Homo sapiens: one gene and its partners. The protein of the gene in region 3 interacts with the protein of the main gene of each other region in a pairwise test. Each region holds a gene or a part of one and is shown on either strand. Other genes may lie near its edges.

What was found. The genes of interacting proteins can lie anywhere in the genome.
Region 1: the proteins of DLGAP3 (region 3) and DLG2 interact in binary tests that used the Homo sapiens proteins (3 or more experiments, as listed by UniProt).
Region 2: the proteins of DLGAP3 (region 3) and MAGI2 interact in binary tests that used the Homo sapiens proteins (3 or more experiments, as listed by UniProt).

The regions. Positions count from the first base shown.
Region 1 is NC_000011.10:85,617,345-85,624,382, forward strand, and holds part of DLG2 (disks large homolog 2), read right to left. Parts: intron 1-7,038. UniProt on the Homo sapiens protein: Required for perception of chronic pain through NMDA receptor signaling. Regulates surface expression of NMDA receptors in dorsal horn neurons of the spinal cord.
Region 2 is NC_000007.14:78,253,668-78,260,705, reverse strand, and holds part of MAGI2 (membrane-associated guanylate kinase, WW and PDZ domain-containing protein 2), read left to right. Parts: intron 1-4,124; coding exon 4,125-4,763; intron 4,764-7,038. UniProt on the Homo sapiens protein: Seems to act as a scaffold molecule at synaptic junctions by assembling neurotransmitter receptors and cell adhesion proteins. Plays a role in nerve growth factor (NGF)-induced recruitment of RAPGEF2 to late endosomes and neurite outgrowth.
Region 3 is NC_000001.11:34,926,642-34,933,723, reverse strand, and holds the start of DLGAP3 (disks large-associated protein 3), read left to right. Parts: upstream 1-4,073; 5' UTR 4,074-4,273; intron 4,274-7,082. UniProt on the Homo sapiens protein: May play a role in the molecular organization of synapses and neuronal cell signaling. Could be an adapter protein linking ion channel to the subsynaptic cytoskeleton. May induce enrichment of PSD-95/SAP90 at the plasma membrane.

The DNA.
Region 1 (7,038 bases), on a different chromosome or scaffold from region 3:
ACTTCTATTCATCTTCTGTATCTCATCTTAAATATTACATCTTCCCTAGTGGGATTGAGTGTTCCTTGTCTGTTTTCTTGACAAAGAGCGTTAACCTCACCACACAGCATTGAAATTGCCTGTTTTTGCATCTGTCTTCCTAATATATTTTAAGATTCATACAGGCAGAGATTGAATATCATTTGCTACTTCAAACATGCATCTGGCACTATGCCTGGCACATAGCAGGCACTCATAATACACCTTTGTTGAATGGATAAATGATTGAATAAATAAATGAAAGTAGAGTCATTGCCTTAAATATATACACCAGTTTACACCATATATACACCAGTTTACCTTTTAAAAGAATTTTAGCTTGTTTATTACCTATGAGAGATGTTTAAATAGAACAGAACTTAATAGGTTTATTCCAAGTATTACCATGCTTTTAATGATAAAGATGTCACAGTCCTTCAAAATGATAAGCCCCTGATAGAAGCTTCAAAATTGTATCCTAAATTAGGGCCTCAGTGGCTAGCAAAATGGTGTTACCAGAAGAAATGGGTTACAAAAATCTTACCCATAATCTTTGAAAGTTTAAATTTAATAATTCATTTTCACAGGATTTTCTACTTTATTATACTATACCATTCCTCTTGATCTTAAATCCTAAAATAAAGGAGGTCAGGAGAATCGTTTCATAATGAAGGTGATTTGGCCATAATTCTTGAAATAGCTTTGAAAACTTACTAAAAATTGAACCCATGCGGAAAGCTTATTAGTTGGAATTCAGAATGACTAACTGGACAGAAGAGACTGGATAAAACTCATGATCCTTTGCTGACAAAGCAACCTACATTGAGGATATAGAAATACTTGTGTCTTGACTGCCATAAATTCCTGGGCAAGAATTGTAGCTGGAGAACACATTCCCTTATCCCAATCAAAAAAAAAATCTCTCCCTTATACTAAAAAATATTTTGTAATCACTGACATGGTAACATAGTATTAAGAAATAAGCATATAAGGAGAATATATATTTAAGAAAGTATAGTATTCGTATAGTTCAGTAAATGTATTTTACAGAACAGTGAGAAATTTACTTATTGACAAAGGCATGAATGAACAGAATGCCTTAATCCAACATTTTAAAAACCCAATGTTTATCCCAGGCAAATTAACACAGAAACAGAAAACAAAATACCGCATGTTCTTACAAGTGGGAACTAAGAATTGGGTATACATGGACATAAAGACAGGAACAATAGACACTACGCAAGGGACTAGTGGGGCAAGGGCTAAAAAACCACCTATTGAGTACTATGCTCAATACCTAGGTGACAGAATCATTCATATCCAAAACCTCAGCATCACACAATATACTCATGTAACAAATCAGCACATGTACTCACTGAATCTAAGAAAAAGTTGAAGTTTTTTAAAAATAAATAAGTAAAATCCAATGTTTTGTGCATACCTCACTGACTAGATTCTTCTACCCACAAAAGTAAACAATAATAGGCCTAAGGGAGAAATCAAATATTCTATCATAAATAAAAACACTTGAGCAGATTTCCAAAAACCCAGAAGTTCACACATTTTCTAGTATCAAGTCATTAGCATATGCTTTGTACTCTCCCAATAGATATGTAAAATAAAATCAATTAACAGATCATTTTATCTCTACGTCTTCCTCACTAAGTTGCTTCATAGCAAACTCCTAATCAGTAGTTAAACACAAAAAGTATTCTTCTATTTCTCATTCTGGAATTCATTCTATTTATGCCTCCTGGATTAATTAATATTTTACAATATCAAGAGTCTATAGCTTATCCAAGGTCAAAATTGTCCCTACGGGGAATTTCTTTTAAAATAAAAAAGATATGGGATACCCAGGCTGGAGTTCAGTGGCACAATCACAGCTCACTGCAGTCTCAAACTCCTGGGCTCAGGCAATCCTCCAGTCTCAGCCTCCCAAGTAACTGGGACTATAGGCACATGCCAACAAGCCCAGCTAATTTTTTTAATTGGGGAATTTTAAATTAAAAAAAAAAACTTTAGTAAATTGTCTATTTTACTTTGACTTACAGAAAATGCAAAAGTTTGAAAACTGTGTTTTCCCATCTTTCTCTAGGATGATTCAGTGCTTAATTCTTTTGAGTTTTATGGCTGTGAAGAGATTAAAAAAAAAACTTGAAGTTTTGGAAAACAGAAAAAACATGTGCAGCCATATGCAGTGGCTCATGCCTGTAATCCCAGCACTTTCAGAGGTGGAGGCAGATGAATCACCTGAGGTCAGGAGTTTGAGGTCAGCCTGCCCAACATGGTGAAATCCCCTCTCTTCCAAAAATGAAAAAATTAGCCAGGCACAGTGGCAGGCGCCTGTAATCCCAGCTACTCGGCAGGCTGAGCCAGGAGAATCGCCTGAACCCAGGAGGTGGAGGTTGCAGTGAACCGAGATTGCGCAACTGCACTCCAGCCTGGGCAACAGAGCAAAACTCCGTCTCAAAAAAAAAAAGACAAGCTCTCCATATATTACTGGTATGGCAAACATGAAAATTCAAATACAAATTTGGTAAAATGCTTGCAAAAGGAATAAAATAACCACACAAGGCCACTCAATGAAGTCAGGTACAGGCATAGCTCATTTTATTGCACTTTGCTTTACTGCACTTTGCAGACAACACGTTTTTCACAAATTAAGTTTGTGACAACCCTGTGTCAAACAAGTCTATCACTGGCAATTTTCCACAGGATATATTCACTTCATGTCTCTGCGTCACATTTTGGTAATTCTCACAATATTTCAAACTTTTTCATTAGTCTTTTATTTGTTACAGTGATCTGTAATCAGTGATCTTTGATGTTCATTGTAATTGTTTTGGGGCGCCACAAATCATACCCACATAAGACAGCAAACTTAATCTGTAAATGTTGTGTGTTATCTGACTCCTCTACCAACTGGTCATTGCCCCATCTCTCTCCCTCTCCTCAGGTCCCCCTATTCCTGGAGACACAACAATATTAAAGTTAGGCCAATTAATAACTCTACCATGGCCTCTCAGTGTTCAAGTGAAAGGAAACGTTACACATTTCTCACACTCAAAGCTAGAAAATGATTAAGCTTAGTGAGGAAGTTATGTTGAAAGCTGAGATAAGCCAAAAGCTAGGCAGCCCTCTTGCACCAAATAGCCAAGTTGTGAATGCAAAGGAAAAACTCTTGAAGGAAATTAAAAGGGCCACTTCAGTGAACACACGAATAATAAGAGAGACACGCTTACTGTTGATATAGGGAAAGTTTTAGTGATCTGAACAGAAGATCAAACCAGCTGTAATTCCCCTCAAACCAAAGTCTAATCCAGAGCAAGGCCCTAACTCTCTTCAATTCTATATAGGCTGAGAGAGGTGAGGAAGCCACAGAAGAAAGCTGGAAGCCAGCAAAGGTTGGTTCATGAGGTGAAAGGAAAGAAGTCATCTTTACAACATAAAAGTGCAAGGTGAAGCAGCAAGTGCTGATGAAGAAGCTACAGCAAGTTATCAAGAAGATCTAGCTGAGATAATTGATGAAAATGGCTAAACAACAGATTTTCAATTCAGACAAAATAGCCTTACATCAGAAGAAAATGCTAGAGAGAAATCAATGCCTCATTTCAAAGTTTCAAAGGACAGGCTGACGCTTCTTAGAGGCTAATGGGTGAATGTAGCTGGTGACTTTACGTTGAAGCCAATGCTCATTTACCCTTCCAAAAATCCTAGGGTCTTTAAGAATTATGCTAAATCTATTCTGTCCATGCTCTAAAAGTAGGTCAACAAAAGCCTGGGTGACAGCACATCCGTTTACAGCATGGTTTACTGAATATTTTAAGCTCACTGTTGAGAACTACTACTCAGAAAAAAAAAAAAAAGATTCCTTTCCAAATATTACTACTCATTGACAATGCACCTAGTCACCCAAGAGCTCCAATGAACATATACAAGGAGATTAAAGTTGTTTTCATGCCTGCTAATAGTACATCCATTCTGCAGGCCACAGATGAAGGAGTAACTTCAACTTTCAAGCCTTATTATTTAAGAAATAAATTTTGTAAGACTATATCTGCCACAGTGATTCCCTGATAGATCTGGCCAAAGTAAATTGAAAACCTCCTGGAAAGAACTCATCATTCTATATGCCATTAAGAACATTCTTGATTCACAGGAGGAGGTCAAAATATCAACATTAACGGGAGTTTGGAAGACATTCATTCCAACTTTCATGGATGACTTTGAGGGATTCAAGTCTTCAGTGGAAGAAGTAACTTCAGATGGAATGGAAATAGCAAGAGATCTAGAACTAGAAGTGAAGCCTGAAGATGTGACTGAATTGCTGCAATCTCATGATAAAACTGGAATGAATGAGGAGTTGCTTCTTATGGATGAGCAAAGAAAGTGGTTTCTTCAGATGAAATCTACTTCCAGTGAAGATGTTGTGAACATTGTTTGAAATGGCAACAAAGGGTTTAGAATATTACATACACTTAGTTGATAAAGCAGCAGCAGGGTTTGAGAAAACCAATTCCAATTTTGAAAGAAGTTGTACTGTGGGTAAAATGCTGTCAAACAGCATCTCATGCTACAGAGAAATCTCTCATAAAATAAAGAGTCAATTGATGTGGCAAACTTCATTGTTGTCCTATTTTAACAAATTGCCTTAGACATCCCAACCTTCAGCAATCATCACCCTGATCAGTTAGCAGCCATCAACAACGAAGCAAGATCTTCCACCAGCAAAAAGATTACTACTCGCTAAAGGCTCATATGATCATTAGCATTTTTTAGTTGTAAAGCATTTTTACTTAAAGTACGTACATTGTTTTTAGACATAATACGATCGCAAACCTAATGGACTATAGTATAGTATATACTGTACTGTATACAACAAATATTTTGGTTTCCCAGTGCATATATACCGTAGTATACAATATATTGTATATATGCATCAGAAAACCAGAATATTTGTGTAGCTTGCTTCATTGTGATAATAGGCCTTATTTCAGTGGTCTGGAACCTAACCCGCAATATCTCTGAGATATACCTGTACATATTCCCCCTCTTATTGATTCTGAAAAAAAAATGATTTTAAGAACTTAAGAAAAACTAGAGATGAAAACAGAGTATACCCGATAACAAAAAGCAAATGTAAATTAGTAAGATACTATAAAACAAGAAGTGGAGCCATAATGTGCAGGAAACAACAAAAGAAGAAAACTTTGAATAGGGAAAAAATAAGCAGGAGAGTCATAAGGTCCTCTTCCCCAGAGGAAAAAAAAAAAAAAGAAATGACACTTTTATGAAGTATACAGTCAACCAAAAGCAAAGAGATAATTTAAGAACTGTGAGTCCAGGAAACTGTAATCTCAGTTTCAAGGGTGCCTATGAGATATATGGCAATATCATGTCTTAAGATTCTAAGGCCAGGCGCACTGGCTCATGCCTGTAATCCCAGCACTTTGGGAGGCCAAGGTGGGTGGATAACGAGGTCAGGAGTTCGAGATCAGCCTGGCCAACATGGTGAAACCCTGTTTCTACTAAAAATACAAAAATTAGCCAGGTGTGGTGGCACGCACCTGTAATCCCAGCTACTCAGAAAGCTGAGTCAAGAGAATTGCACGAACCCCGGAGGCGGAGGTTCCAGTGAGCCGAGATCACACTACTGCACTCCCACCTGGGCTACAGAGCAAGACTCTGTCTCCCAAAAAAAAAAAAAAAGATTCCAATTATATAACATTCTTCAGCTTCCTTTGAAAGCTATAATGTCAAAACATATACATATAAAAAAGATAGGACTTAGCTTTCAGTACATGATAAAAATGTTTATATATATATTATATCACTGAGAACCACTGCAAAAAAATAATTCAAAGGAAATAAAGGGTCATATAAATAAATAATTTCAGACAAACTTCTACACCAGTTTAAAAGAAGCTCCGAAGACAATAGGACAATTTTTTTTTTTTTGAGACGAAGTCTCTCTCTGTCGCCAAGTTGGAGTGCAGCGGCACAGTCTTACCTCACTGCAACCTCCACCTCCTGGGTTCAAGCAATTCTCCTGCGTCAGCCTCCCAAGTAGCTGGGATTACAGGCACGCACCACTATGCCCAGCTAATTTTTGTATTTTTAGTAGAGATGGGGTTTCACCACGTTGGCCAGGCTGGTCTTGAACTCCTGACCTCATGATCCGCCCGCCTCGGCCTCCCAAAGTGCTGGGATTACAGGCGTGAGCCACCGCGCCTGGCAATAGGACAATTTTTTAAAACACTGAAATGAAATGAACATTTATCTCAAAGTAATAAAGGCATTGATTTCTTCCACATATTTAATGACAATGAGAACAAAAAGCCATTCAAAAAAGAAGCTGCATTGTACTAGAAAATTCTGTTAAAGCATATTTTTATCTTTAAAACAGCAACTTTCTGCTGTAAAACATGGCAAATGACGTACCTATCATTAACTTTTATTTCTTATGTTAACACAGTAGGAAATCATATCAGATCAATTCAAGAAGACTTGTTAAAACAGACCCTTATAACACACTATGGTCTTGCATCATATCAGAGAATACTAATACAACTTATCCTGAATTGGTCCTAAATTTTCACAAATTAAAATATGTCCAAGATTGTCCCAAGGGCTCACCTGGGAGCAAATAAAGTTACTACTATAGATAAGAAAATCTTGAATGAAAAGCAACTGCTGAGGAAAAAAAACCTTCTATGAGGAAACAGAAGAGTCTTCTGTTGATAAAACTGAGATCTGTAAAAATGCGAAGAGACTAGAGTGAGAGAAGTAGAAAGTAATGTCATAAAGCAAACGAGCAGTTAATATGGGGTTTGAGGCACAGTAGTTTCAGCTTATCCAAGGGCAGTCCAGAATGGCACCTAGAAATGGGCTTAGTGAGATGTCACACCCATTCCCAATTCCCACCATGGTTGCATGGTATCAGTAAAAGAATCTCCTCTCTCTTTGACAAAAATATACTAACTAAATACCAAATGAAAATCCATCTTATGAAAATTT
Region 2 (7,038 bases), on a different chromosome or scaffold from region 3:
CCTGAGGTCAGTAGCCCTAGAACTAACCTAAATATGGCCTGAAGTGAATGACCATTTAGCAAACAAAGTAAATTTTCCAGCAATGTAGTAATGAAAATATATGCTTAGCTTTCAAAAGAAATGTATCTTCTTATTTTTATGGAGAAAAAATTTGATAAAATTATAAGTATTTTCACAAGGATGATCTCATTTTCACAGTAGCTCTGCAAAAGAGGAAATGTAAGAGATATTTTTATTCCCATTTTATAAAAGAAGAAATTGAGAGATGGGGAGATCAAGTGACTCTTCCAATTCTCCGTCTTAAGTAGGCCAACAGGTTAGAGCCAGAGCCAGTCTTCCTGATGATGTCCCTTTCTGTGCTCTTAAACCCAATCTGTCTGAGGACTTGGCATGGCACCGTCAGATGACATATACCAGGTGTCTTATATTTTTATTTCACGACATGTAAATGACATTCATACAGCACAGTCTATTAATATTCTATCCAATAAGTTCTATCTGAACAAGCAAATGTTTGCTGACATCCCCGTCTATAAGAGTTTTGGGCATGACTTATTATCTAGACATCTATATATTTTTTTAAAGTGGGCAGTTGAGTACCATCAAGTTGTTATATAGTTTTATCCTGTGATAACTGACCACTCATCTTTTACATTCAGAAATCTTCTACGTATCTTCATAAAGATATTGTTGCAGTGTTCTTTATCCTTGCCTGATGACTTGAAAAATTGCTGTTAGTGGAAAATATCCATAAATTGTAAAAGGCAGTCTTACTAAGAAACACAAATAGTTCTCACTCTGTTTCTAAATAGCAAGATCACATTAAAACTCAAAAATAGGTAACATTAATCACTACAATTCAAACTACTACTCTCTAGACCTGGCAGGGAAACTTGAGAGCTTTCAACATAACCCTTAGTTCTTTCCCGTGAAATTCTGGCAGAGCAGAGGGAAGGAGAGAGCGTGCTTGGGGACTGGGGAGTCTGTTAACAGTGATTAAAGTTAGGGAGAGCCTTAGAGGAAGTGGCATTTGTTACCTCTCTGACTTTTACTTGGCCATTCAGAAACCCATTGTTTCCACAATCATACTCAAGTCATCCTTGACTGTAACTGTGGTGGGAATATCTGGGTAGAACTGTCCTGATTTTATAGAAGAATATAACAAAGGACAAAGAGTAATTACTGAAATAGCAATCATCTTTTGCATAACAATTTACAGCTTAGAAACCCTTTCACCTGTATGATCTCATTCGTTATTTCCCATGGAACAATAAGTTGCTATTACTATTGTTCATCATTACTTCTAAAAAATCTGAGTCACAGAGGATTGAAGCCAGTTTGGGAAAGTTATACAGCTAATAAGTGATGAAACTAGAACTCAGACCAAAGTCTTTTGACCTCATATCCCATGTGATCTCTACTATACCTTGCAGCCTCCTGAACCTAAGAAGAATGTTGGAGCAAGAATGAAAGTAGACATAAAAAATAGTCAATGAGTTAAAAAAAACTCACTGAATAGGAAATTGAGGAAATGAGGCATACCCAAGAGAAAATCCAAAAGGCCAATAAACATGAAAAGATGCTCACCTTCACTGGCAGTCTGGGAAATGCAAATCAAAACTATGATCACATCCATTAGATTGGTAAAAATTAAGTCTGAGAATACGAAGTACTGTGTCAGATGTAAAGCAATGAAAATTTCAACACACTACCGATCAGAGTGTAAATCAATGTGACCTCTTTTGTCAGCCATTTGCCACTATCTAACAAAGTTGAAGATGCACATGGTCTGTGCCAGCATGGGGTTCATAGCAGAGTTATTTTCAATAGCCACAGATTTGTCATAACTCCGGTGTCCATTAACAAAAGAATGGATGAATGTTATTAAGTAGTAATATAGCCATCACTAAATACTGTATTACAATGAAAACTAATCAACTAGAGGCACAAGTATCAAAATAGATAAATATCACAAACATATTTTAAGAAAAGTTACAGAATATTAAAATATATACCATTTACAAAAGGCTTAAAATATGTAAAATACTTTCCAGGGATTATTATTATTTAGAGATTAGATACTATTTAGAGATATTGTTTTTACGGACACCTAGATATGATATAAATTATAAAGGTATATGTAAATAACAAACCTCAAATAGGGCAATGGTTACCTTGGAAAGGGCTGTAAAGGAGTGCAAGTTGGGGGAGAGGTGCTAGCCAAGGGGGATTCAACTAATATGAGCAATGTTCCAATCATTAAGTTGGATGTTAGTATACAAGTATTTGTTGTTCTTTCAACCTTTTAAATGTAGAAAATATAACATTAAAACTAAAAGAAACAGGAGAGAAAAATAGTCTATCTGAATCAGACACTTCTCTGGGACACTGAGATGAATGGAATCAATTAAAAACGATTCCCAAAGCATCCCCAGCTGCCACAGTCTGAAGAGGAATTATAATAACAGTGAGGGAATGTCCACTCCAATTCAGTTCTGAGCCGTGGACCCACGTTCCAGCCACCACATCAGTACCCTCTCTGATAGACATTATGGAAAAGTGAAGTTCCATCTGACCAATCACATAGGTTGTGACATTTTCTAGAGGCAGACCTAACCTGGATCCCTGAAAATGTCTGCTTGGCCTCTCTGTCAATTTGGGAAGAGGGACTGTTAATTAAGACAATGCTGTTAATTGTTTTATTCATTTTATGTTATACACCTACAAAAGACCAGAAAAGTTGTCAACTCTAAAAGTTCAACTCTGTTTTTCATTTTTAACGTTTGCAAGCTTGCTGGGCAAGGATGTCTCAGAATGAAATCCCTAGCCATTTGTACCTCCCATTCCAGAATTATTCTGATAAACTGATGTCTGTTGAGTTGCTTATTTCAAGATCTGTGAAAACATGTCTCTTCATCCCTAATATACTCCTCAGCATAGTCAGGCACAATCTCAATTTGCAAGCTCAATTTTCAAGTATTATGGTTTGTGAAGATAAAAATACCAATCCATGATAAAATAGTTCTCCAAAAATAAAATTGTTATTCATACATAATTGAAATTTTTAAAAAAACATTTATCTCAAACAGCCATGATTTTCTGCATTTTAAGCAGGAAAAAATATTTCTCTGAATATATTTTATAATGGATAATTTGCATTCAGAGCATTTCTAATCATAAAGTTAGCCTCTAACCAGTAGACCTCTGAAAATCTGTGATAGTTCACTGGGGAGAAAGGACAAGTGCCTTTATTGAAACTGATCCACAGAAATATTAGTTTATCTAAGATCAGAGGATGAACTGTGGCAACTTTCTGTTTGAAACCAAGGGACCCAAATCTCCTCCATCCTATTTTAACAACAATCATATTAATAATAGTCCACATTTATTGAGCACTGTGTGTCATACACTATGCCAAGTACTTTTCCTACATTATGTCATTTCATTCTCACAACTTTACAAATGAGGAACTGTGGCTCAAAGCAGGGAACTTGGTCAATATCATGTATCTGTTAAATAGTAGAGCCAAGGTGTCAACCCAGCTCCCTAATCCCAAAACCTGCACCCTTGACCTTTGCTCGCATATACATGGAAGCTTTGTAATTACCTGCTATAGATGGAAAAAAATAAATGGGCAAATATTTTTCTGTTCCATAAAAAAGAAAAAAGGCAATTGACTTATTCAACTTATACAAAAAAAAATATGCTAGGGCTTTGTTTTTCGTCTAAAACTCATGACCACTACTTCTCAATAGTTCGAAAATTATATTAACTGAATTACACTGAAGATGGAATATAAGATGAAAAAGAAGCATAGAGAATGTGCTTCTTCAAGGTACACATTCCTCTAACCTTTTCTTTCAGAGCCTTTGTTTCTGAATATGAAGTTGTTTCTGAACTTCAAGAATAACCAAATAGCTTTTTTTCAGCACTTCATCATTGTATTTGCTGGCAGTCCTGTTGTAACCTTGAGTCACCCACAGTGATTTTAAGTATTATTCTAATTGATTTCTCACTGCTTACTAAGAAACAACACCTCTCACTAGTCTCGTAAATAATTCCATTTCTCTATGTCAATGTTAATTGAACTTACCTCATGTTGTCAATCTCTTTTTTTCTTACAGGTGATGTCATTGTCTATATTAATGAAGTTTGTGTCCTTGGACACACTCATGCAGATGTTGTCAAACTTTTCCAGTCTGTTCCTATTGGTCAGAGTGTCAACCTGGTGTTGTGTCGTGGCTACCCTTTGCCCTTTGATCCTGAAGACCCTGCTAACAGCATGGTGCCACCCCTTGCAATAATGGAGAGGCCACCTCCAGTGATGGTCAATGGAAGACACAACTATGAAACATATTTGGAGTACATTTCTCGGACCTCACAGTCAGTTCCAGATATAACAGATCGGCCGCCTCATTCTCTGCACTCCATGCCAACTGATGGTCAGCTAGACGGCACGTATCCACCGCCCGTCCATGATGACAATGTGTCTATGGCTTCATCTGGGGCCACCCAAGCTGAACTTATGACCTTAACCATTGTGAAAGGTGCCCAGGGCTTCGGCTTCACTATTGCCGACAGTCCTACAGGACAGCGGGTGAAACAAATACTTGACATTCAGGGATGCCCTGGCCTGTGTGAAGGCGACCTCATTGTTGAGATCAACCAGCAGAATGTACAGAACCTGAGCCATACAGAAGTAGTGGATATACTTAAGGACTGTCCCATTGGAAGTGAAACTTCTTTGATTATCCATCGAGGAGGTAAGACAAACACTGGCTCAGCAATAAAATATGTGGGTAAAATAGTAGGATCATTTAATAATATTGTTAAAATGCAGATTTCCTTGGAGTTGAATGAAATTATACTTTAAAAAATAAAGCTTAAAGAGTGAGAGAGAAAAACATGAATTAAAGGAAACTTTGTTTTTGAATTCAGAATATGTCTTTTTCTATTTTGTATTAAACACAATAATAATAGTTCTTTCAGTCTTACAGACATATTGATAGAAAGTTGGAGGGTAAAGATTAAATCCCCAACTATGAATGTATTTTGTTTCAAAAATTCATTCATGTATCGGTCATGGAGAACTCAAACTGGTTTCCCATTGATTTAATTAAGAAACCTGCTTTTACGATGGAAGCAACGCTTTTAATCGTGCTTAGGTTTCCAGGCTAGCAGGTGGAAGCCAGTTCAACCCCTACTAAGCCCAAGCACAGTCTTGACAATACTCAGAAGGACCATGAACTGTGAGAGCTGTGGGAGCTGTGCTGCTGTAGAAAAATCTTTTCACAGTTTGGAATGATGCTGTTCAGGACACTTCTGCTACTACAGGAACTGCACTAGCAACAATTACCCATAGTGCCTCCCATGATCTGGGAAGAAAGTTACAGAACAGGGTGAGGGCTGAAGTTCTGGCCTGAGTGTCCCGGGCAAAGTATGGAAATAGGAACAGTGCCAAGTGTGGTAGAAGCTCTGAGCCCTGAATGTTTCTTCCCCTCTACCTTTTCTGTGGGGAAGGGAATGGGGTAAAGCACAGGGCCCCTTCTCCACACCTCTGCTGCTTTGCTCTGGATGACCAGTGAACCTAGAGAGAGAAGGGAGGGAAGGGGCCATAGATAAAGAGGATACTATCTCGAAAAAAGAGTGTAAAGGAAAAGGATCAGGCTAAGCCCTGGTTTTCCCATTTGCCAATTTGTGGACTTAGGACACTGAAAGTCAATGAGCCTCAGCCATGTCATCTGTTACAATGGGATAATACTACTACCTAACCCAGTGGTAGTGTTGTAGCCCAACATCTGCTCACTAAATGTCTGGCGAGTGTAAACATCGAAGCTTCAGCATGGGTGGGTCAGAAGGAACAGGACAATGAGGAACTCATGCATGAAGGACACACGTGTGACAAACATGTGGTTGCCTATTCAAAGCACTCAAAACAGCCTGAAACTCTCAGTTTGAAATGCAAGTGAAGGCTGTCAAAGCTGAAAGAAAGAAGCACCTTTTATGATTTATTTGGCCCTGTCTGCAGGTGTTTTTCCTTCAAGGAAGTATCACATTGTTGATTCCTTGTTTGGAAACGGACAGCAAACACCAGGCATTTGTGAGCAGCACTCTACAAAGTCTTAGGTTCCCGGTACTAAAAGGGAAATTCATATGATAGCCAAACAATCTTAAATTTGACCTTCTCAAGGCATTGTTACAAAATAGCACTTGAATTCTCATAATTAAATGTTGGCAAGGTATTTTAATTTCTTGCATTGCTTAAGATTAAAATAAACATTGCTAATTAAATAGCCATATCTTCATAGTGTCCAAATGAAAATCAAATATTTGGACCAAGTTCTTGATATTAAATGGTATCACAAACTCACTGTGCAGTATCCACTGTATGATTCATAGAAACAAATTTGGATGCATTTTTTATATACAGCTTCTTCTAAAAGCATGACATAGCAGAAAAAAGGTACTTTGAAATCCCTAATTTACATTATGGTAATTTGTACTTTTCTGAAAATATTCGTTGTGTGCCTGCTATCAGCTTGGCTACCCCATTCTCACTTTTCCTTTGCCCCCCATTTACTCCACAAGTAATCAAAGTGGTCTTTGCATTTGGTTTGTGTTTGGGGATGAGGGAATTGGTTTTTGTTTTTTGCCTAGCATAGCAAAATGCAGAATGCTGTGATGCTTAAAGTACTTCTAGTCGAAAACCTCTTGAGTTTACCCTAATTCCCACAATTTATACTCATCTCTCTGAAATTAATAGGAACTAGCACCATGCTTATGTGGTGAAATTCACTTTATCTTATTATGGGCTACCAGAAGTGCCTATGACCTCTTTGAGATAAGCAGACTCAAGAGCTGAGTCGCAGGCCTGGGTCCTTATATCAGGACCATGGGTGGTCGGCTGTTTTTAATTATTTACTAGAGTTTTTAATTTATAAAGTAATAATGTACATGGTTTAACTTTTTTAAAGCAAATAATGTCAACAAGTATAAAATGAAAGTAATTGTCTGTCCTATCCCAGACTTTCAGTCCTT
Region 3 (7,082 bases):
AGAGATCATGAAAACTGAAGTTAAATTTCATCTGTCAGCAAATGACCCTGTATTAGTTATTAAATGCCATAATATTGCGGCATAATACCATACCATACCAAAGCTCAGTAGCTTAAATTAATAAGCATTCATTATTGCTCAAGAGTCTTCAAATTGGCTCGACAGTTCTTCTCATTCAGCTGGTCTCACTAATGTGTCTGCAGTCAGCTGTGGACAGGTAGATATCTCTGCTGCTCTTGCCTGGGCTCTCTCACATGTTTGGAGATCTGCTGGCTATAGGCGGGTCCATGATGATCTTGGCTGGGACAGTTGGGATGGTATAGCTCTCTTCCACCTTGTCACTCATCCTCCAGCTGTCTCAGGCTTGAGGCTTGTTCTTATAGTGAAGGCAGGAGACCAAGAGAAATAGTAGAAGTATTCATGTCTCTGAAGGCCTAAGCTCAGAACTGGCACTACATGACTTCTTCCAGATTCCATTGGCGAAAGCAAGTTACAAGTCCACTCAGATTTAAGGGGTGGGAAAGTAGGGTCTGCCTCTTTTTTTTTTTTTTTCTCCTCAGAGATCCTTGTTCCAAAGAGTCCACCTGTTGATGCAGGGAGTTGCAAAGTCACAGGGCAAAGGAGATGGATTCGGGTGGAGGTAGAGAATTGGTGCCCTTTTTGCAACACATCTTTCACAGCCCCCAAGGCTAAAGTTGGCTTCAGTGCTCTGCTTACTTCTCTGGTTCTGCCTTTACCTAGATTTTGGCTGGAGTGATTCTTATTTTCTTGCCAGCACATTGATACATTTAAGAATATTAAAAATGTACATAGTTATACATATATATTCTCTTCTTTATTGTGTTTTAATAAAAATATTTTATCTTTTTTTTTTTTTTTTGCTATTTATCATGCTTTCAGTGGGAAGATCAACTAAGGCAACTGTCATACTGATTGACACTGAGTCTCTGTCTTTGCACATGTGACTCTCTACCTGAAAGTCTCTCTCCCAATCTTTGAGACTCCATTCAAATGCTTCTTTTGTGCTTCTTTTTTTTTTTTTTGAGATGGAGTCTTGCTCTGTCGTCCAGGCTGGAGTGCAGTGGCGTGATCTCTGCTCACTGCAAGCTCCACCTCCTGGGTTCATGCCATTCTCCTGCCTCAGCCTCCCGAGTAGCTGGGACTACAGATGCCCGCCACCATGCCCAGCTAATTTTGTTTTTGTACTTTTAGTAGAGACGAGGTTTCACTGTGTTTGCCAGGATGGTCTCGATCTCCTGACCTCATGATCTGCCTGCCTTGGCCTCCCAAAGTGCTGGGATTACAGGCGTGAGCCACCGCGCCCAGCTTTTTGTGCTTCTTTGACTGTCCTCTTCACCTAGGCAGAGCTAGGCCCAGGGTGAGCCCCTTGTCCAAAAATTATTAACAATTTTAAGACAGTGACAGCAGAATATTCTACCAAGAGTGATGCCTTTCTACATGTGGGGCTCTGTACGACTGCACAGGTCACACTCCCATGAAGCTGGCCCTGATAGTAATTATTGGTTTACATCTCCATCTCCCTTATTAATCAGTTATTAATCACTGGATGGCTATGGGAGAACACTGTCTAAGGTAAGCCTGTCTGATTAACCTGTATGCCCCCAAGAGGCTAGCAAGGTGCCAGGTATAATCAGTAAAGGGTTGTTGAATGAACAAATGAAAATAACATTATGTTCTCAATTCTAAAATGCACCAACTCTAATAGCTTTAACAGAAAGGTAAGAAGAGCCATATTAAATGTCCCTGTTTATTGTAAGATGCTTTCCAGTTTCAGAATAGTTTACAAAATACAGGTCTTAGAACTGCGAAAACACGGTGGTGCTTTTTAACATCCTCTATCACGGCTGTTCTTTTTTTTTTTTTTTTTTTTTTTGAGACGGAGTTCCAGGCAGGAGTGCAATGGTGCAATCTCTGCTCACTGCAACCTCTGCCTCCCGGATTCAAGTGATTCGCCTGCCTCAGCCTCTGAGTAGCTGGGATTACAGGCGCCCAACACCACACCGGGCTAATTTTTGTATTTCGGGTAGAGACAGGGTTTCACCATGTTGGCCAGGCTGATCTCGAACTCCCGACCTCAGGTGATCCGTCTGCCTTAGCCTCCCAAAGTGCTGGGATTACAGGCGTGAGCCACTGTGCCCGGCCGTCAGCTCATCCTTTTTTTTTTTTTTCTTTAAGACTGAATCTGGCTCTGTTGCCCAGGCTGCAGTGTGGCACAGTCTCAGCTCACTGCAACCTGTGCCTCCCGGGTTCAAGCAATTCTCCTGCCTCAGCCTCCTGAGTAGCTGGGATTACAGGCACGTGCCACTGCACTCGGCTAATTTTTTGTAATTTTAGTAGAGACGGGATTTTACCATGTTGGCCAGGCTGGTGTTGAACTCCTGACCTCAGGTAATCCACCCGCCTTGGCCTCCCAAAGTGCTAGGATTATAAGCATGAGCCACTGCGCTCGGCCCAACGGCTGTTCTTATGCTCCACGGAAAGTGAGATGTTTCCTTCAGTTCTAAAGTGGGTTCCTGGGAACAACTTTCTTATTTTCATGACATCTGCTCTTGACTGAACCCTGGGCTGGAAATGGTCTGCAACCTCACTTCATGATTGAAGAGACAATGAACCGTTCTTGTGAGCAGCAGGGTAGGTGACCAATCTACTAGTCTCTTACCAGACTTCTAGGTATCCCTTGGGAAGAGGGCTCTCCAAGCCCCTTATGTTATTTAATGTAATGTGGCATCTTAAAACATCATCTCCCTGGGGAAAAGAGGTCTTGGCTCCCAGTTCTAGCTCTTCTGGGCCTTTGGCTTCTCCTTTCCGTGCCTCACTTTCCCCTTTATACAGGGAGGAGAGCCGGTGGCCCCACAAGGAAACAGAGAGCAGGGAGTTGTTGGGGTGCGGGGTGGGGGCCGTTGAATCAGAACAACTCCAAGGTATGTTCCTAGAGAGGTGGGCAGTCTCAAGCCTCCCAAGCCCACACCTCACCATCCCAAGCTTTCAAGACCGGAAAAGGTAGAGGAGGGAAGAGGGCTTTAAGGATGCCCACTGAACCTCCACCCCCAACTTTCAGCGCCGGAGGCAGTGTTTCCTCACACCTACCCTGGAAAGCCGGAATCCGGAGCCACCCCTTCCCCCACGTCTTCAGCCCCTCCCCCTGCGGCTTCCCCACCGTGGCCCCCTCCCCCCCATTACAGCATCGCTCTGGGCGCCAAGACGGATTCAAGCCAGGGGACTGCTGCAGTCCGCTCTCCGCCTCTCGGCTCCCGCAGCCTGTGTCCGGGCTCCGCAGCCTCCAGCTGTGCTTCGGACAGTCCCTTTCCCCCCACCCCGACCCCGCCATGGCACAATCCCAGGCTCAGGGCCCAGAGGCGGGCGGGCACAGTGGGCACGGGCGGGGGCCCAGCACAGGCGGCAGGTACAGCGGGGCTCTCCCTCCACACTGGGGATGCCTCGGCTGTGCGGACTGTGGGTGGGGGACGCCTGCCAGCGGCTCCGAGGCCGGGCACAGCGCCCCATCCTGGCAGGGGCTGGGGCCGAAGAGGGGGGCTCCCTGACCCCAAGCCAGGAGCTGAGGTCAGGCGGCCGACCGGGAAAGCCCGAAGGAGAGTCTCCTAAGCGGACGGGCCTGGGGGCTGTGTGTGACATTCAGGGCGTGACTGCCCCTCGGCGGGGGGCGAGACCCGGTCCGTGAGGCTGAGCTGGTCCCCGACCGCCCGCCCGCCGCCGGGCTTGGGTCCCTGTACCCAGGTCGGCTGTGCGTGGCCGTGACACTTCGGGTGCCTGTTCCTGGGTCCCCGGGGAGGGGGATCTCATTCCTGCCCCTACGCTGGGCGCCCCCAGCACCGTCGCTCAGCGAGGTGGGCGCTCCTCCGGGACCCCGGCGGCCGCCCGCGGGCGGCGACCTCGGCCCTCCTGGGTCCGCGCGGGGGCGGGGAGCTCGGTCCCCCTCCCTCTTCCTCTCCCTCTCCCTCTCCCTGCTCGGCTGCCCTGCGCGGGGGCGGGGGCGGGGGCGGAGCGCGCGGGCGGGATCCCCCCGCCTCCCCTTCCCGGTCCCCGGGAAATCCAGCCTCCGTGGCTTGGCCGCCTCCCGCTCCCGCGCCCGCTGCCGCTCGGCGCTCGCTTGGGGCTCCGCAGCCGGCGCGGCCCCTCAGCTGGGGGCTCCGCAGTGCCGGGCCCCGGTCCCTGCCCGCCTGCCCAACGCCGCAGCGCCCCCGGCCCGGGCCGCCGGCACCATGTAACCCGGCCGGAGCCCGAGCCGGGCCAGGTAAGCCGCGGGGAGGAGTGGGGACGGGGCCGCGCTCGCGGCTCCCTCTGCAGCGCCCCCCAGGCACGGCCCGGCTGCGGCCCCGGCGCCGCCCACGCCCCGGGCTCCGGCGCTCGGCTCCCGGCCCCGGGAGGGGGGAGGGGCTGGGCCTCCTCAGCTGCCCCCGCTCCTGCCCCGGCCTGGCTGCCCGCGGGCCCGACCCGAGGGGCGGGCAGGGGACCACGCGGACCGCGGACCCACGCTCCCGGTCAGGGCCGCGGGGACAGGCCAGCCCCGGCCCAGCCCTCGCCCGGCTGGAGGCTCGGGTCTGGGAGGGAGTAGCCAGCTGGTTGTGGGGGAAGTCGTGGTGCTGGGGAGATCCGGAGAGAAGTTTCCTCTGCAGGTGTGTGAATGTGAGTGCGTGTCGCTGTGTGTCTGTGCCGAGTGTGTCACTGTGTGGGTCTGTGGGCGATTGTGTGTGCCGGTGAGTGTATGCCGTGAGTGTGTGCGTGTGTCACTGTGGGCGAGAGTGTGTGTGCATGTTAGTGGGTGTATGCAGCGTGAGTGTGGAGGGTGGTACTGTGTATGCATCTGTGGACATGTGAGTGAATGAGTGTGTGTTGTCCCCATGTGTGCCTGTGTGTGTCTGTGAGTGTGTGAATGGATGTGTGTGCCGGCGTGACTGTCTCTGTGAGTGGGTCCCGGTATCTGCCCTGTGTGACTGTGTGTGTGTGTGTGTGCGTGTGCGCGCGCGTGCGTTGGCTGTGTGAGAGAGAGTGTATCTGAGCGCGGTTCACTCTGAATCACCCACACCTGGGCTCTGTCCCCCCCACTGTCCCCCCATTCCTGGTGGGATATGGGACAGGGAGATGAGACTTTTCCGAGGTCAGATCATTCCCCACTTCTCTGGGGACCCCTGACCCTTGATTCAGGCAAGAGCTTTGTGGCACTCCCCAGCTTGGTCTCTACCTTCACCTACCTCAGGGGGTGCCCTCTGGGATGTTGCTGGTCGTGTCCTTCCTGCATGCTAAGGCCCCTGGTGGGTGGGAGGGGGGATCTGGGGCGAGCTGGAGTATGTGCCTGCGTGTGCTGCTTCTCCTTTTGGGGGCCTGGGAACTTGTGTCATCTCAATAATGTTTCACCAAGGGCCTTTTAGAGCTAGGAGATGAGGAGGCCAGGTGGAAGCGTCTGCCCTGTTAGTCATCAGAGCAGGTGGCGCTCTCCCAGACTTCCAAGTCCCAAACCTTCAAGTTCTGGGTTATTGGTTCAGTCCACTGGCTCCGGGTGGGTCTGTACTAAGCTCTTTGAAGTAATAATAATAAAATAATGCCCTCATATTAGTTCAGGGCTTTTGAAAATGCTGCCCTCTGAACTCTTCTTATTTCCCCAACAGCCTTGGGAAGCAGGCAGGACAGGTATCACGTTAAGCCATATGCAACTGCAATATTCAACTGTTTTTATTTAACCTACAAAAACAGCAATTTCATATGGTTCAACCAAATATAATGCCGATTTACAGATGAAGATGTTGAGGCTTGAGAAATGAATTGCATTTTCCACAACCACACACTGCTAGTTAGTGGTACAGAAAGACCTCAGCCCAGGTCTTTCAGTGACCCAAAGAACTGGGCTGGGCCAAGGTTAGAGAGTGGTACTTCCTGGTGTGCTCTCTCTGACCCTGGGGGCACTGCCCTCTACCACTGCGCAGCATTCCCTGAATGCTGGGGCTACTTCTGCACCCAGCTGCCAATGCCTAAAAGAGTGGGGGGTGGGGGGAGAAGAGAGGAGGGAGGGGAGGGAGAGGCTTCGTGAGTTGGCAGTGAATCAGGGTCTAAAAAGGGAGCTGGGAGGGCTAGGGTGGCAGGTGTTTCTAAAAGGAACATGAACATAGGATGAACGGCCTCACATACAGCCCCCGCATCTCCCACCCGCCACTGCCCCACTGATCTGGCAGGCAGGGCCCGCTGAGTTTTGTGCCAGGGGGCTCACATCCAACGAGTGAGCTTGTATGTAGCTGTAGAATGATGGCCAGGAGAGGAACCTTAGTATTGACTTGGTCCAACCTCTTCATTACAAACCGGGGACTCTGAAGCCCCAAGAAGGGAGGGGACTTGCCCAAGGTCACACAACGAATTTGTGAGTTCCTAGGCTAATCTTAGACGAGGAACTTTGCAATCCTCCATGTTGCCTTCTATTCCTGAACTCTCCCCACCCCCATCAGAGCTGAGTACAGGGGATTTTTGGAAAAGAAATGAAGACTCAAAAAGCCTAAGGCTGTACATCTTTCAGCTTGGGACTCCTTGCCAAAGAGAGGGCGCTACAGATGTCGCTGGGGATAGGGATTCCTAGCCACACCCACCACCGAGGTAGGCCATGGGCTTGTCTTGTCTTGATTCCTGCTGGTGAGGGGCTGGAGCTGCTACAGGCCAGACTCCCAGACTTTCTCATGTTAGTACCTGCTTTCAGCGGCTGCCTGACACCTAACATCATCTCTTCCAGCTGATGTTGGGGCTCGAGCTGGCTAAGCTTGTTTTCCTTCATCCTCCCCAGTTTCCAGTGCATTTTGCCTCTAGCTGGATAGACCATTCCTTACCTTATTGGGTTCCTAATGAATAGAGAAACTTCTGGGGCTTGTCTGATTTAGGAAGGGTCTGTAGTTACCCCCAAACCCTTTCTAATGAAATCTTCCAGGAGTCTAGGACAAATGATAAAGGGATTACCCCCATTTTACAGGTGGGGAGACTGAAATTCAGCAAGGGGCCCCGTATTTGGTTGTTTTTTAGTTTTTTGGGGGTGAGGTGATGAAGGGAGCAAATGATGACAAAAACTT